Homo sapiens: one gene and its partners. The protein of the gene in region 2 interacts with the protein of the main gene of each other region in a pairwise test. Each region holds a gene or a part of one and is shown on either strand. Other genes may lie near its edges.

Region 1 (3,852 bases), on a different chromosome or scaffold from region 2:
AATGCTGGGTGCAGTGGTGTGCACCTGTAGTCCCAGCTACTCAGGAGAGTGAGGTAGGAGTATTGTTTGAGCCCTGGACTTCAAAGCCAGCTTGGGCAACATAGCAAGACCCCGTCTCTAAAAAAAAAAAAATAATAAAATAAAAAAATAAAATAAAATAAAAGAATAAAAATAAGAAGACCACACCTCACAGCAATTAGATAATCCAAACGACATGGATTTGGAACTTGGATTCAAACTCAAGCAGTCTGGTTCCAAAGATTTCATTCCTAACCACTTAAGTGATAGATTTTTCATTTCTGTTCACCTTTAGTATTAAGCCAATACAGTTTGCTTTGAAGCCCCAGTTCCATCTTTTTAAGTAAATGTGGGCAAGAGGCTTAGTAGTTATGGCTAATTCTGGTTTGCTCCTGCTGCTGGGCACTCTGTCTTTACACATGGAGTAGTTCCATATAGTGGGAAAAAAAGTCTCACGAAGCCCAGGCCAATGAATACACTTTCAGACTTAGAAGGCCATGGTTACAACCTTCCTTCACCTCAAAAACTGAAAAACAAGACCCCACACTGCTTTCCTATCACACCTTGTAAAATGGGGCCTCTGACCCTCCTTGATTTGATGAATCCTATTAATGTTCATCCAATGCTCTCTGCCCATGATCCTCTATCATGGTTATTTACACATTATGTGTCATGCCCAAGCATAAGTGGGAAAACCAACTTCCCCTCCGATAACAGATGAAGACTCTAATGAAATCTACTAAACCTCACACCCAGTTTGGGGAATCCAAGAATTACTATACACTGAGGCAGATACTTTATTTGGGGATTCTGCCTGAAGTAAGACTAAAGAGCAAAGTCTCTTCTTTAGAAAGGCAAGAACAAGGGGCAGAGTAAAACTAAGGGAGCATAAAGAAAGCCTAGAAGTCCACGTGTAGAGGGAAGAATAAAGGGGGTAAGAAGACACAATAGAAGAGGGGTGGAAACAGAAGAATGACAAAAGAAGGGCAAAAGCTACAGTCCAAGTGCTAGAGCCAAGCCAGTTTCTTACAGATGTAGGGTGTGTGTGTGTGTGTGTGTGCGTGCACGCACACACGTGCACACACGTTACAAGTGGAGAATGAAGGTAAGGTATCCTAGGATAAGGTCTCCTAGCAGACTTGCATTTTTGGCTCATAGTATTAGACTTTATTGGTGGTAGCATAGAAAGTAGAAGAAACGACTCATAGCTTCTGGCAGCTGCTTAGTTAAATTAAGGTGAAATGGGCTAGAGACAGGCAGGCTTCCTCTGACACGTTTAGATCATATTCCAAGTGTTTATCCCAGTAGCCTAGACTAGCCTGTTGACACAAAGAGCTCTTCAAATATCTGTAGGTAGCAGGGTTAGGAAATTCCTGTGACAGGTTTTCATTTCTGCCATTTTTCAAAGTACACAGGATGTAGAGCATGGATAGTGATATAGTATTGATTGGTAACAGGCCCACTGGCTCCCCACTCAATATGAAAGTTTAAGAACTGGAGTAACTGTGCATAGAAGAGCTTATACCAAGAAGCCCATTTTATCACATGGAAAATCACAAGGTTCCCTGTTTCAAATGTCTAATCCAAATTTTAAAAACATGTTCTATTCCTATGCTAGTTTAGATGAAAGAGAGTTCAGGATGCTATAGGTAAATTTCTTAGGTTAAGAGGTTGCTAGAGAAAAAATGATGTTTGAAAAATGTTTCGGCCAGAAGCAGTGGCTCACACTTGTAATCCCAGCACTTTGGGAGGCCAAGGCAAGTGGACTGCCTGAGCTCAGGAGTTCGAGACCAGCCTGGGCAACACAGTGAAACCCTGTCTCTACTAAAAATACAAAAATTAGCCGGGCTTGGTGGTGCACGCCTGTAATCCCAGCTACTCAGGAGGCTAAGGTGGGAGAATTGCTTGAACCCAGGAGGCTGAGGTTGCAGTGAGCCGAGATTGCACCACTGCACTCCAGCCTGGGTGACAGAGCAAGACTCCATCTAAAAAAAAAAAAGAAAATGTTTCTTAGGACAAATTTTAGAAAAGAGATAGTTTAGAGAGTATAGTTTTAGAAATGGCTTGTCACCTTGGTAGTCATTTAATACTAGAAAATAGCAAAATCATAGGACTATGAATAAAATTAGTATGAAATGTTCTATAAATAGTCAATCTATAGAATTACTGAAACTTTATTATGTCAAATTTAATTTTCAGGCATAAGTATGAATTTCTGCACAACAGAACAACTCCAGATATAAGAATAACAGTTCCACCAAAGAAGATTGGCATTCTATTAGACTATGAACATTCAAAGTTGTCATTTTTCAATGTGGACCTTTCTCAGCATCTATATACATTTAGTTGTCAGCTTCACGAATTTGTGCATCCCTGTTTTTCTTTGGAAAAGCCTGGGTGTCTAAAGGTACATAATGGCATTTCAATGCCAAAACATGTCACTTTCTATTAGAACATTCTGATGTCCAGTTTCCTGTCTTCCATGCCTACCCCTCTCGCAGCTGCTCACGCCTTAGCTGGCTGAACCTGGCACTTAAGCACCATGTGCCCAGCACAATTTATGGCTCATGCTATTATCTGACTGGTGTGCTAGCGCTCATTTCACCCAACCTGGATTCTAGTCCTGTGTGCTGCTACCTGTGTGCTGCTAGGATAGTCATTACCAGGCCCAGCTGTAAAATAAAGGCTCAGACTAAACGAACTCAAAAGTCTTTGAAGCTGTCAAACTATATTCGTGTATATGCAAAATATCTTGAGTTTCCAAGACCTAGAGAGCTTGGGAGAGGACGAGGGTAGTCTTAATGGCTCCAGCAGCACCAGTACACCCATGCATTTCATGAGTCAGCCAAGAATACACTTGAGAAGGCGAGAGGCTGTCTGTAGAGAACCAGGGAAGCTGTGTGCCCTTCTCAATGTCTTCTACCCTCGTTTTCCCAATAGTGAGCAGCACTGTGGTGAGGTCCCTTCCACTGTGTACTCTGCATACAGGGTATTCCCTGTTCCACTCCTACACAGTATGCACCACTCTCTAATTTTGAAATTACCTCTATAATGCCTAATTCCATGAAGGGAGGGACAGTGCCTGTTTTGTTCATTGCTAGATCACCAAGGGCTAACACATAACAGCTGTCACCAAGTATTTGTTGAATAAATTAGTATCTTCTTCAGCCACTGCTCTTTGGCCTCTTACTGCTCTCCATGTGAAGGATGGCAGGGCTCTTTCAAAACTACAGCAAAGGACCTATGGCCAAGAAATGGGAAAAAACCTAGAATGGAGGCAGCGTGAAAGAACAGAAGGGCATCTGTGGCATATTAGCAAATGCACAACAATTTTTTAAAAGAAATTAACAGCCCACCAAAGGGCAAAGCTGAGCACGGGAAGGAAGACTGATCTCTAGCTAGGCAGCTTTCAGGCATCCTGCCTCACTGCCCCCAGGCCATTCTGTGAGCTCAATGCCCAACTCCATCAGCTACATTCCTGGTTCTCCTGTTCAAGTTTCCAGTTGCCACTTAAGCTCTGCACACACAGCATTTTCAAAGCTTGTGAGTGAAGCTGCAGAATAATTCCATTTGTGAAGCAATTACAATTCAGTATCATGTCCCACAGATGCCTCTAAACCCAGATATGCCCTAATCTCATCATTTAAGGTTTTGTGTTTAAAAAAAAAAAGTCCACTTTTCTTTTTTCTGGCGAAACCCCGTCTCTACTAAAAATACAAAAAATTAGCCGGGCATGGTGGTGGGCGCCTGTAATCCCAGCTACTCAGGAGGCTGAGGCAGGAGAATTGCTTGAACCCGGGGGCAGAGGCTGCAGTGAGCCGAGATTGTGCCACT
Region 2 (5,470 bases):
TTGATCCTTCCTAGTGGGCCAGAGAGTTAGATAGAAGTCAGCTGTGCCGGGTACCCCGTCCTTCAGGAAACTGCTGGATTTGCTCACCAAGGTTCTTTTTTTGTTTTGTTTTGTTTTTGTTTTTTTTTGTTTTGTTTTTAAACAGAAGAAAGAATCTATGAAGAAAAAACAAGATGAAGAAATAAATCAAATAGAAGAAGAGAGAACGAAGCAGATTTGTAAGAGCTGGAAAGAAGACTCGGAATGGCAGGCATCTCGTGAGTACCCAGAGGTCTCCATAGCACCTTCCAGGCTCTCAGCTGATTCTCTCCCTTAATAATGTGATCAATCTAGAAAGCGCTTAATGTGGGTTGTTGAGAGATATGTTCACAGTAAGTTACCACTCAAATGTTATTACTAACTTATTACTCAAATGCTTACAGGCTACTTTTGAACAGCAGACTCGTTCTCCATTTATTTCTGTATCACCAAAATTATGATGTAATTTATCAAATAGCATGATATATAGCTATGGAAAATAGGTTTTGGAGAGTGTTTAATGATCTTAGACTGTTTATATCTCATTAGCTTGGGGAAGAAAAAACACCATGAAATAGAATGAAAAGCTTCGCTATTTAGAAATGTCTAAGTATCTGAAGGAAAAGAACTGGAAGGTTATAATAACATGTAAACATTAGTTTTCTTGGAAAGGTGAGATTCAAGATTATTTATTTGAATGTTTTTCTTGTAATTTAATATTGTGTTTTGGATTTTTTTTCCCCTAAATTTTTGATAGTGAATACATTTTAACTTTGTAATCAGAAGCACACAGGAATACCAGGCTGGATGTGTTAGCATCCCGCTCCTGCCTGTGACCCAGCCTTGACTCCTATTTGAGTGAGCAGAATGGGTGAGAAAACTCATAGGAGAAGAATAAGCCCATGCAACTGAAGGCAGAGGAGAGGATGCTCCAGAATGCTAGAAGAATTAGGTTTGTGAAAGAATTAGTGTTTCCATCTGACTCAGAGAAATCTGAACTGCTAGATCAACCTGAGGTGGCTTGAGGAAGACAGCAGGTATGGCTATATTTGCAGGATGTTGAGATCCTACATTGATCTGCAGTCCCATTACAACCAATGCCATTTAAATGACAACTACTGTGAAATGAAAATATTTGCAAGATCCAGTAGGCTCTTTGTACTATGCACTGAAATCCTAGCATAAGGGAATATTTTGGGTGTCTCTTTGAAGTCAAGTATAACAGGATTTGACCAATACTGCCTGAAGTGTAAATATAGTCAATAAAAATCATTTTTACATTCTGCATTTGAGTCTCATTGCTATAACAAAAAATTCTGTTTTACAAAGTAGTCATGCGCTGTATGATGTTTTGGTCAACGATGGGTCGCATATAGTTTTTAGGCCAGGCACTGTGTCTCACTCCTGTAATCCCAGCCTTTTGGGAGGCCAAGGTGGGTGGATCACTTCAGGTCATGAGTTCAAGACCAGCCTGGCCAACATGGTGAAACTCCATCTCTACTAAAAATACAAAAATTAGCTGGTTGTGGTGGCGTACACCTGTAGTCCCAGCTACTCAGGAGGCTGAGGCAGGAGAATTGCTTGAACCAGGGAGGCGGAGGTTGCAGTGAGCCGAGATCGTACCACTGCACTTCAGCCTGGGCAATGTAGCAAGACTGAGTCTCAAAAACAAAACAAAACAAAACAAAAAAAACACAGACACACACATACAGAAAACCAAAAAATAATAATAAAACCCCAAAATAATGGGTTGCATACATTTTTAAAATAAATTTTATAAATGTAGTGTAGCCTAAGTGTAAAGTGTTTACAAAGTCAACATCAGTGTGTAGTAATGTCCTAGGTCTTAACATTCACTGAGCACTCACTCACTGACTCATCCCAGAGCAACTTCCAGTCCTGCAAGCTCCATTCATGGTAAGTGCCTTATGTAGAGGCACCATTTTTTTTTGTCCTCTATACCATATTTTTACTATACCTTTGCTATGTTGGGGGTATTGATTATTTTTATTTTTTTGAGATGGAGTTTCGCTCTTGTCACCCAGGCTGGAGTGCGATGGTGTGATCTCAGTTCACTGCAACCTCCGCCTCCTGGTTTCAAGGGATTCTCCCGCCTCAGCCTCCCCAGTAGCTAGGATTACAGGCGCCTGCCACCATGCTCAGCTAATTTTTTGTATTTGTAGTAGAGTTGGGGTTTCACCATGTTGGCCAGGCTAGTCTCAAGCTCCTGACCTCAGGTGACCCACCGACCTTGGCCTCTCAAAGTGCAGGTATTACAGGTATGAGCCACTGTGCCCGGCCTTATGTTGGGGGTATTTAGACACACAAATACTCTTGTGTTACAGTTGCCTTATGATGCATTTCTCAGGATTTATTTCTCTCATTAAGTCACTAGTGACTGTAATATTAAAAGGCAGACTTGGGGTACTTTTTTGTGTACTAATGTGTCCTACAATTACCTGTGGTTAAGCATCCCTTTAATTTTTTGTCTGTCAGGTTGCTTCTCATTCTGTCCTGCTCTCTGCTCCTTCACCCTATGCACAGCCCCATGCCACTGAGTAGTCCTGATCTCTGCTAGTGAGTCAAGCACACTGCATCTGAACATAAGTCATGCAGGGCGTGACAATTGCCTCTTATTACTCAGCACCCCTGCCAGCTTGAACCCATGCTCAGGCGGGGGATCCTCACTTGGTCTTGCCAACTGCAGGAAATTCTTGCACACTTTCTCTACTTCTCTCTCATCCCTTCTTCCTCCTCTTCCTTTTCTCTCCCTCTCAGAAAACCCCCAGTCCTGTATGAAGAGAGGAATCCTGCAGCGAACGCTGGGCAAGCCCTAATGGCCTGGATCATAGGTGTTGATAATGATTGTTCCTTATTATAAGCAGACAACAAACTGCTGAGAACCTGCGCTGCTGCCCGTTGTGCAATGAATGCTGAGCCTTCTCACCTGCTCTGTGGGCTGATGAGGGTTTTCTCCGACCCCGTTGTTTTTCCAGTGCGAAAATCCAAAGCAGCTGATGAGAAGAGACGCTCCTTGGCTAAACAAGCACGAGAAGACTACAAGAGGTTATCCCTCGGGGCCCAGAAAGGAAGAGGCGGTGAGAGGCTGCAAAGCCCCTTGCGTGTTCCGCAGAAACCAGAAAGACCTCCCCTTCCACCCAAGCCTCAGTTCCTAAACTCAGGGGCATATCCTCAAAAACCTCTTAGGTAAGAAGCCACACAGATGGGTTTATGCATAAACATTGCAATGGGCTTTGAATAAGCGTTGAAATTAAAGGGGAATTGTATGAGCTGCCATGGGGTGTGGAGGGCCAACTGGCAGCCTGTGTAAGTAGCTCAGGTTCATGTCTAAGCCTTCTTCCTGGGTGATCTGGGCGGGCATTCCTCCCTTTTTTAGCTGTCAAATGTCCATAGCTGTTATACTTAGTATACCCAGTGAAATAGTAAAGCTGTGCATGGAATGAGAGAACTTCCCGTGTCCCTACCCCACTCTCCCCTTTCCCTCCCCCGCCCCCCTCCCCCCCAGAGGCAGCCGGTGAGCCAGTGAGGGGAGAAGAGGAAACAAGTGGGGTTTCACTGATGCCCAAGATCACCCTTAGTCAAAGATTATCAAAGTAGGAACCCAAAGGCTTGCTGACTTTCGTGTGATCAGTGGGAGTACATTTTCACTGCCAAGGATTAAAGGTTTGATGGTAATTCTCATTCACGGATACATAGCCAAGTTCCTCTTTTAAGAATTTGGAAAGCCTCCTTTTTTAGATGAATTGTCTATTTGGTGGTGGAGATACCATTGTCTGCTAGGCTGTGGAAGAATTAGGAAGAACCATTTGTTCTGGAAAAACTGTAGAAAAGTGCAATGATGCTATTAAACCCCCATCCCTTATGTTTGCTGATTCTAAATTTTTTTCTGGTTATTGATCTTATTTTTAACATCCTAGTATTTAGAAAGAAGTATTAAAATCAAATGTTGATTGAAAGAAACAGAATTGTCTAAAGCCTTGCATTCTGAAATAAAAACTAAAAATAATTTGAAATACTTCTCTAAGATTATGGAGAAATGAAAAATAAGACTCTTCTCCTGCTTGGAGTCGTAGTTATCTTCAAGGTTGTCTTTAAACAGGAGTGATGACCTCAGGGGAAACACAAAGGCGGATGTTTTTCTTTGCTGTAATTATTTCTACTTACTCTACTGGAAAGTTCCGTTTCGGGAAGTGGGGACCAACGTGGAACTCAGTGGAGTAAGTGGAAATAATTACAGTAAAGACCATGATCTCCAAAGTGATCGTTTGGGTAATGATTCTTCTCTTACCGACAACAAAGCAAGAAATGTAGTCAGGAAATAGGAGTCTCTTAATTGTGAGAACAGCTGACAAAGGTGCACACGGCTCTAAGTGCTGGAGCTTGTCTGTCCGCACGTTGGCGACAGAGCCTCAGCAGGGATGTTTTTGCAGCTAACTCCTGTTCACCGTCTCTTCCAAAGGTAGCATGGAAATGACTTGTAGATGTCCCTGTCCCACAGCATTTTGAAGGACAGTATATTTGATTGACAGCAATGAAGGTGGTCTTTAAAAAAGGGCAATTCCTATTTTCAGCTGTGCTCAGTTAGCTCATTTTTTCCAACTGAAGACACTGCATGAAGTGCTTTTTGTGAGTCAGACTGGGTGGTTTTAGGGCTGGGACTTGACACAGGGATGGCAGAGGTCACCTCAGAGCCACCCCAGGAAAAGACAGACCGGCTCCTACAGTGTCTGTGGAGTTTTGCTCGATCTCCAAGGACTTCCCAAAAAAGAGCCTAATTTGGAAGCTAGTAAGAGAATGTATAATATAACTTCGTATGTGTGCAGTGTCTGCCTCCCAGGGAAGTAAATATTATAGGATATTTTCTCGAAAATGCTCCGAAAATCATTAGGGATAATATATACACATACATGCATATGTACAACTATATATATATATATCTGACAGTATGTCACACGTAACTCAGAAGCACATGTTATAAAAAGCGTAAAGAACCATAAGTTGGTCAATTACAATACTAGTAGTTCATCGAAACTTGATTGTGGTGGTTGTGTTTCATAAATTGTATTTTGTTTTTAATTGACACAATAATTGTATGTATTTATGGGATACAGTGTGATGTTTTGATACATATATATATATTGTGTAGTGATCAAATCAGTATAACTCACATATGAATCACCTCAAACACTTGTCATTTCTTTGTGGTGAGAACATTCAAAATCCTATCTTTTGGCTGTTTTGAAGTATGTAGTACATTACTGTTGACTGTGGTTACCGTGCTGTGCAGTAGAGCAGCAGAACTTATTTCTGCTGTCTCACTGTAACTGCGCCAGTTGACCAACCTCTCCCTATTTACCATCCCCCCTACTCTCCCCAGCCTCTGCTAACCACTGTTCCATACTTCTATAAGATCAACCTGGCTGGGTGTGGT
Region 3 (3,237 bases), on a different chromosome or scaffold from region 2:
CCAACAGAGCGAGACTCTGTCTCAAAAAAAAAGAAAAACTACATAAATAAAATGCAAAAATTAAGTGACATTTTAAATTGTAATTGCCTTATATCAGTAATTCACATATTAAAATTTGGGGATATTTTGGATATATCCCCATATTAAAGAGTATTTGAGAGTGAAAATATAAATACAGGTACATTTATTTTCTGATAGAGCTTTTAATGTTAGGCTGTATATTTTTTCTTATCCAAAATGCCCTAGGACAGAACACTTCCTCAAATTTAAAATGATTTAAAAACTTGAAAAATAGAAACTGATGAAAATTTTTTGGTAAAAATGTGTTTTTTCCAGATGGTTGTCCTTGCCATCTCAGTCAGAGCAGGCAGTGATGTCCCTGTCCAGTTCGGCTTGCCCGTTGCTGCTGACGTTACGAGACCATTTACTTCAGTTGGAGCAGCAGCTTTGTTTCTCCTTATTTAAAATTTTCTGGCAAATGCTTGTAGAGAAGCTGGATGTATACATCTACCAAGAAGTAAGTAAGAATAGACTGTTTTTGGGCTGTGATAATAAAGACAACTGTTATATGAATTATTCTTTGTTTCAGATAATTCTTGCTAATCACTTCAATGAAGGAGGAGCAGCCCAGCTGCAGTTTGATATGACTCGGAATCTTTTCCCTTTGTTTTCTCACTATTGCAAGAGACCAGAAAATTATTTTAAACAGTAAGCTCAACATTTAACAATTAATATTAATGTATCAAATTGTTACAGGAGGCTAACTCCTTTTAACTTTAGGGTTCTGGAGATGTTTGGGTGGGATAAGATCAGTTGAAATTTTAAAACATTGTCTATCTACTGTATGCTTACAGCACAATGGGGAAACCAAGATGATAGATGTGACCCATGACCTCAAAAAGTTTCAGAACTAGATATAAATTACCTGTTGGGTTTTGTTTTCTAGTATTTGGTTTAATGCTTCTAGTTGCTTAGTTACTGGAGGAATAAATAGAAAATGAAAACAAGTACAGTTGTGCCCTATTCACTAAATATAAGAAATTACAGGGCCGGGCGTGGTGGCTCACGCCTGTAATCCCAACACTTCGGGAGGCTGAGTTGGGCAGATCACAAAGTCAGGAGATCGAGACCATCCTGGCTAACATAGTGATACCCCCATCTCTACTAAAAATACCAAAAAAAAAAAAATTAGCCAGGCCTGGTGGCGGGCACCTGTAGTCCCACCTGCTTGGGAGGCTGAGGCAGGAGAATGATGTGAACCCGGGAGGCGGAGCTTGCAGTGAGCCAAGACTGTCTCAAAAAAAAAAAAAAATTACAAATATGTTTAATACCTAATAGGCCAGGCCTGAAAGAAATTTGTTTCCTTAAACATTTGACATTAATTTTGGTTCTAAATATAATTATAGTTTCAGAATTTGTTGATCTAAAATTTATAGGCCAGGCATAGTAGCCCACATCTGTAATCCCAGTACTTTGGGAGGCAGAGGTGGGAGAATTGCTTGAGGCCAGCTGTTTGAGACCAGCCTGGGCAACATAGCAAGACTCCATCTCTACAGAAAGTATTAAAATGAACAAACAAAAAAAAGCCAGGTGTGGGGGTGTGGACCTGTAGTCCTAGCTACTTGAGAGGCTGAGGCTGTAGTGAGCTATGATCGTGCAGTTTCACTCCAGCCTAGGTGACAGAGCAAGACCATGTCTCAAAAAAAAAAAGTAAAATTTAAATTATGTTTGGGTTTTGTGAGGTTATAAAGCATTCCTTTTAGACTTATAAAATGAAAGCTTATGTTTACACGTTTCATAGGACTGTTTTTAAAATTTATTTTAATGTTCTTTCTGCTGCTTTCATTTATCTCTTATTTTTGTCTTTTCCCATGTTCTAATCTACCTAAAGTTATAGCTATATTTAATATAGTGTTAATATTAAGTATTGTATTTAGGGAAATAACGGATACATATTGAAATAGGGATCGTATTACCTTATAGTAATCTAAAGAAATAGCAACTCTGCACCTGTGTAGTCTTACCATGTTAAAAGAACCAAATAATAAATCCATAAATATTTTTATAGAGAACATGTGGACCAGCAGTGCAGAGAAGCTGTTTAGGATTCTCAAAATTGTAATATAATTGATGCAGATAATGGAGATCTCATTTCCCTCCTTTGTTTTCCCTAAACAGTATAAAAGAAGCCTGTATTGTTTTGAATTTGAACGTCGGTTCTGCACTACTGCTGAAAGATGTACTGCAGTCAGCTTCAGGGCAGCTTCCTGCCACAGCAGCATTAAATGAAGTTGGAATTTACAAACTGGCTCAACAAGATGTTGAGATTCTACTTAATTTGAGGACAAATTGGCCTAATACTGGAAAATAATGTCTTTCAGAAAAAGGTTTCTTTGGTTTTTGTTTCTAAGAAAGAGGAAGCCAATTGGATTTCAAGTTATATGATGAAATTCTGAATTAATGAAACTGGAAAACTTTATAGAATTACTTATTATCTTGGATTTATGGTGTTATTAAAATGCTGACCATATTTCCTTCATCCTCTTGTTCCTAAGGAAACAAAAACAGAAAACGAAACAATGAAAACTCAATTCTATTTACAAGTATAAATGCTGAGTATGTCTGTTGAAGACGAGCAGAGATATTAAATTATAACCAACTTTCAATTTCCTGTGCTAATTAAGGGAAATTCTGTTGTGGATAATCAAACATAGCCAATAAATTTTTTTAAAACTCCCTTTGAATGCATATTTGTAATTGAGGCACCTGTATCTAGTTTGGGAATTAACTGTATTTCCATGAGGAAACTGGCAGGGCACAGTGTCTCATGCCTGTAATCCCAGCACTTTGGGAGGCTGAGGTAGGAGGATTGCTTGAGGCAGGAGTGCGAAAACATCCTGGCCAACATGTCAAGACCCTGATGCATGCCTGTAGTTCTAGCTACTTGGGAGGCTGAGGTGGGAGGCTAGCTTGAGCCCAGGAGGTCAAGACTACAGTGAGCTCTGATTGTGACACGGCACAGCAGCCTGGGCAAGCGAACAAGACCCTGTCTCTAAAGAACAAAACAAAACACATTGTGAGATGGTGAATAAGATAGGATTGTTCTTCATTTCTCACAAATGCCCTTCTATTTTAAATGCTTCCTAGTTTCATTCTGTGTGACAGTGGGCAACCCTTTCTTTCTGGATGAAACATTTCAGGCCATGGCACTCTGACTCAAACATTCCCATGTGGTAG
Region 4 (5,033 bases), on a different chromosome or scaffold from region 2:
CTCTTGCTAAGGTGGCCAAGCGAGAAGACAGGCCGGGCTGAGCCGCGGGTGCGGTACCACCGGCGCTTTGTCGACGTTGTGCCCATCTTTGGCAAGAAGAAGGGCCCCAATGTCCTTCTTAAGTCCTTTGTAATTCTGGCTTTCTCTATTAAAAAAGCCACTTAGCTCGAAAACTTTTTTCTCAGAAAAATGTTTTTGTTTTTATTATTTTATTAACTTATTTATTTATTTTTGAGACCGAATCTCTGTCGCCCAGGCTGGAGCACAGTGGCACGATCTCAGCTCACTGCAACCTCCGCCTCCCGGGTTCAACCGACTCTCCTGCCTCAGCCTCCCGAGTAGCTGGGACTACAGGCGCGTGAAACCACACCCAGCTAATTTTTTGTATTTTTAGTAGAGACGGGGTTTCACCGTGTTGGCCACACTGATCTGGAACTCCTGACCTCAGGTTATCTGCCCGCCTCAGCCTCAGTGCTGGGATTACAGGTGTGACCCACCGTGCCTGGCTTGTTTTTATTATTTTAAATGAATAACTATAAAATGCAGTTTTAAATTTCTAATACAGTAAACATAGATATTAACGCTCATAAACAAAAGCTTATTGGGATCTTCGTCAATAATGAGTGCAAAGGAGTACTGATTCCAAAAAGTTGAGAATCTTGGCCTGAAAAGGCATATTCCCCACAAATAGGACTGTGAATGAATGCATCCATAATTTTGATATGTTTTGTCAGTTTCCCAAGCACAAAAGTTGTACAATTTTGCACTCCAAGCAACAAATTAAAAAGATGTTAAACTTTTGGATCATTGCCCACTGGCTGGGTGAGAAATAGTGTATTCATATATTTTCAACTTCCATCTGTTATATTATTAATATGTCTAAGCCTTTTATTTTCATATGCTAAAAAACCATTTTCACTTCTTTTGCTGTGAAGTCTATGTTCAAGCCTCTCTCTCAGTTTATTCCATCAGGTTTGGCCTTTTTGGAGGGAGGGGTCAATTTTAAGAGAGAGCTATAGATCCAAGTTCCTGTAAATTGTGTGAGTTGCAAATACTTTCTCCCTCCTTCCTTGTTTTTGATGCTCTCATCCTTTCTTCTGCTTAGGTCTTTGAAATCCCTGCTGGTTTCCCGTGTCTTAGGTCCCTGAACATGTCCGAGATGACTCCACTGAGTCACCAAAACAAAGAAATTCACCAACTCAAATTTTTCCTTGAGCTCTCAGCAGCAGTTAACATAGCTGACCACACCCTTCTTCCTAGAATGTTTTCTTCTCTCATCTGTCTGCAGCTGACATTCCTCTAACTTGTCTGGTCTTGTTCTCCGTGGCCTTTTCTGGTCCCACATCCTCTGAACCTCTCAATCTTGGGGTGCTTCAAGGTTGAGTTCTGGTCTCCCAGTCCTGGTCTCTCCCTAGGTAATCTTACTCGTTTCTGAAGATTTAAGTTCCATTCTCCGATTTCAATCTCCTGCCCAATTCCCAACATTTTTGCAATAGAATGTCTAAGGAGCACTCAAAATTAACATATCTAAAGCCGCTCAGGATCTCAACCCAGTGGCTCTCTTCCCCCAAACTCATTCCTTTAGAGCCACAGTTTAAGCCTTCCTTTCACCAATTCAACTATTGTTTTCCAAATTTATATTCTGTCCTGCCCTCCTCGTCCATCTCCAGCTCCTCTCTGCTCAACCACCAGAATACTATTTTAAAACCAAAACCAAGTGAGCAGGTTTGTGGTCACTTTCTATGGCATTAGAGTAAGATCGAAGTGGGTAATAACCCCGTCCTATACAATCTGGCCTCCTGCCTTCTTCTGATCTCTCTATAGCTTTCCCCCATCACTGTCAATCTAGCTGCCTCTAATTCATCACAGCCCTTCCCCCTTCCGTGGCCAACAGAGCTCTTCTCTCATATTTTTGCAATTCCAGCTGCCTCTTCTTTCTTCTCTTCAGTTCTCAGCTCAAATGTCTTCCCAAGAGAGACCTTTCCATCACTACTCAATTTGAAATACCTTCCCACTACTCATCTCCTTATTTTATTTTCTTAGTAGCGAAAAGATTTTATCTTTCTATGAACAAGTTTACTTGTGGGTCACTCTCCATCCATAAGAAACTAAGTCCTTGAGATGCCCTGTGTCTACATCTGACATACTCGATGCACAATAAATATTGTAAACGATATTTTATGTTAAACCAGTAAAAATTGAAGGTGTAATGAGAGAGGGACAGAGACTAAATATTTTTACAGAAACAGCAAAGGAAAATTGACGAATTAAGTCCCCAGCATGTTGTCTACCCTTATTTTGTTTTTCCTAATATTTTTCTTCAGGCTTTTTCCTGATAACACACAGATACACACACACACACATAGATTCTAAGATCAAGTTTAGAAATCTAAAGAAACAATTATTAAGAAAATGATCTATAGAGAAAATCTCACTTACTTTCTTTGTAGCAATCCTGGGTATTTCCTTTTTTTTTTTTTTTTTTTTTTTTGAGACAGGGTCTTGCTCTGTCACCCAGGCTGGAATGCAGTGGCGCAATCTCGGCTCACTACAGCCTCGAGCTCCCAGGCTCAAGTGATTCTCCCACCTTGACCTCCTGAGTAGCTGGGATTACAGGCGCTGCACGACCACACCCGGCTAATTTTTGTATTTTTTGTAGAGACGGGGTTTCAGTATTTTTCCCAGGCTGGTCTTGAACTCCTGGGCTCAAGCAATCTGCCTGCTTCAGCCTCCCAAAGTACTGGGATTACAGGAATGAGTCACCACACCGAACCAAGGTATTTCCTTTAGGGAAAAAGCTGGAACAGTGGAGACTGAAGAGATTTTATCTGTTCAATTCCTCCCTCAGCCCCGCCCTCACACCATCAGGAAGGCGTCTGTGAAGTTTCTTATCATATTCACACAATTAATCTCATTAGAACCACCTGAGTTTATTAAAACGCAAGCCTCTTCACAGGGTCTCTGATTCCAGAAATCTACGGTGGGGTCCGTAATTTACATTTTTAATGGACTCCCAGAAAATGCTTAATAGCCCTGACCTTGGTTGGATAAATATCTTGTTTTATCTCCAGTGCCATGTACAGTGCCTAACACCTCTAGCTCCTTAAGGTTTGGGGTTTTCTTTCTTAATGAATCTAGTGTATATTGACAATTTCACAGGAAAGAAGCCTTCGAGCTAACACTCAAGACTGTGTTTGTTCCTTAGTAGAAAATAATGCCTGACTTGTTAGTTTCTAGAACGTTTGCTGGAGAAGTGTTCATTCCAGTATCTGTGGAAAGAAAAACCAAGAGTAGGGATAACTGCCTATGGAATCTGTCACAGATGGGAGGTCAGGGAACAATCCCAGATAATTCATACTTGATATTTGGCTTCAGTGAGGAGGAACTCTTCACAGCTTTCTAAGTTTTATAGTTTTGTCCCCGAGGGTTTTTATTGCATCAGTCAGTCAATCCCCTGCTAATCAAACCAGGGAGTTTTTTTCTTTATGCTGCTGACAGGATAATGAGAATTCTTCTGCTTTGCTTATCTGATCTTTCAGAACCTGGTTCTACCTTATGGAATCTCAATACACCGTTTCTCTTTTTCTTTTTTCTTTCTTTTTTTTTTTTTTTAGATGAGAGTCTCACTCTGTTGCCTAGGCTGGAGTGCGGTGGAGCGATCTCGGCTCACTGCAGCCTCCGCCTCCCAGGTTCAAGCAATTTTCCCACTTCAGCCTCCCGAGTAGCTGGGATTATAGGCGCCCACCACACCCAGCTAATTTTTGTATTTTTAGTGGAGATGGGGTTTCACCATGTTGGCCAGGCTGGTCTCAAACTCCTGACCTCAGGTGACCCACCCTCCTTGGCCTCCAAAAGTTCTGGCCACCGCGCCTGGCCATACACCCTTTCTCTTATCTCAGATGATTACCTACACCCACTCTCTTTTCCAAAACCCAATTCCCCAGCTTTCTTCAAATAGACCACATTTATTCCTGTGCCCCCTCCCCTCCTCAGCCAGTCCATCCTCCTTTACTTCTCTTATTTTTCTAATCCAATCTTCCTTTCTCTTCTAAGCCTGGGTACGGCCAACGTCTGTGAAGATACTCACACATACTTGTTGTCAGATACTCTGTCATTTACTCTCACCATCCCTTGAGCTTTCATAACTCTTGAGCTTACTCATCTTGACAAGAAAACTTTGTAATCTTTGAATCAAATGGAAAATAAACATCAAGCATATTGTCAGGTTTTGAAGTCTCTTAAAGCCTGTTTTAGAGTATTAAATGCTTAAATAAATACTTATTAAAGCCTGTTTTACTATTAAATAAATATTTATTAATAATTAAATTATTAATTCTAGAAGAGTCAATATTTTAAGATAATTCTAAAAACATTACAAAAAAGTGTGCTAAACCCTTATTTACTGTTACATGCCCCACCTGTTGCATGCTCCAACCCCGTGAGGTACATCTGCAGCTGATGAAGTAGATGACGTAGAGATTAAGTCACGGGATTAAGTAATTGACCAAGAGCACTGGGTGCAGAAAATTGAAGATATGGAATTTGAATCGGGTGCCAAATTTCATGATATTTCCTTATTATAATTATTTGTCCTTATTAAATATTAATCAAATGGCTTGACAATTTACAAAAAAGATGCCTCAAATTTGTATGACAATTTATCACGAGATGCTTTCATAGGGCTAGAGTAATCACATTACAAGGAACACAGATCATTTTAAGGTAGTTAGATTTTTCATAGGAAAACTTTTCATTAAAATGAAAATCCTGAAGAAATGTAGTTTTTTTTCACTGTCAAAGAACAAATACAATTATGAATGAGTGAGTCATTGTTCTCCTGAGTCATTTCATGAACTTATAACAGTCGTATCCCAGCCGGGCACTCTGGCTCATGCCTGTATCCCCAGCACTTTGGGTGACCGAGGCGGGTGGATCACTTGAGGTCAGGAGTTCGAGACCAGCCTGGCCAACATGGGAAACCTCATCTCTACTAAAAATACAAAAATTAGCCGGAAATTGCTTGAACCCAGGAG

Evidence for each region. The genes of interacting proteins can lie anywhere in the genome.
Region 1: the proteins of SH2D4A (region 2) and FSD2 interact in binary tests that used the Homo sapiens proteins (3 or more experiments, as listed by UniProt).
Region 3: the proteins of SH2D4A (region 2) and RINT1 interact in binary tests that used the Homo sapiens proteins (3 or more experiments, as listed by UniProt).
Region 4: the proteins of SH2D4A (region 2) and TRIML2 interact in binary tests that used the Homo sapiens proteins (3 or more experiments, as listed by UniProt).

The regions. Positions count from the first base shown.
Region 1 is NC_000015.10:82,757,966-82,761,817, reverse strand, and holds part of FSD2 (fibronectin type III and SPRY domain-containing protein 2), read left to right. Parts: intron 1-2,217; coding exon 2,218-2,470; 3' UTR 2,471-3,852.
Region 2 is NC_000008.11:19,361,058-19,366,527, forward strand, and holds part of SH2D4A (SH2 domain-containing protein 4A), read left to right. Parts: intron 1-145; coding exon 146-257; intron 258-3,014; coding exon 3,015-3,225; intron 3,226-5,470. UniProt on the Homo sapiens protein: Inhibits estrogen-induced cell proliferation by competing with PLCG for binding to ESR1, blocking the effect of estrogen on PLCG and repressing estrogen-induced proliferation. May play a role in T-cell development and function.
Region 3 is NC_000007.14:105,564,941-105,568,177, forward strand, and holds the end of RINT1 (RAD50-interacting protein 1), read left to right. Parts: intron 1-183; exon of another isoform or gene 184-336; coding exon 337-517; exon of another isoform or gene 518-589; coding exon 590-708; intron 709-1,382; exon of another isoform or gene 1,383-2,178; coding exon 2,179-2,371; 3' UTR 2,372-2,513; coding exon of another isoform or gene 2,514-2,550; 3' UTR 2,551-2,737; downstream 2,738-3,237. Other genes in the region: EFCAB10 (EF-hand calcium-binding domain-containing protein 10), read right to left, coding at 609-675, 2,527-2,550. UniProt on the Homo sapiens protein: Involved in regulation of membrane traffic between the Golgi and the endoplasmic reticulum (ER); the function is proposed to depend on its association in the NRZ complex which is believed to play a role in SNARE assembly at the ER.
Region 4 is NC_000004.12:188,106,804-188,111,836, forward strand, and holds the start of TRIML2 (probable E3 ubiquitin-protein ligase TRIML2), read right to left. Parts: upstream 2,801-5,033; 5' UTR 2,440-2,800; intron 1-2,439.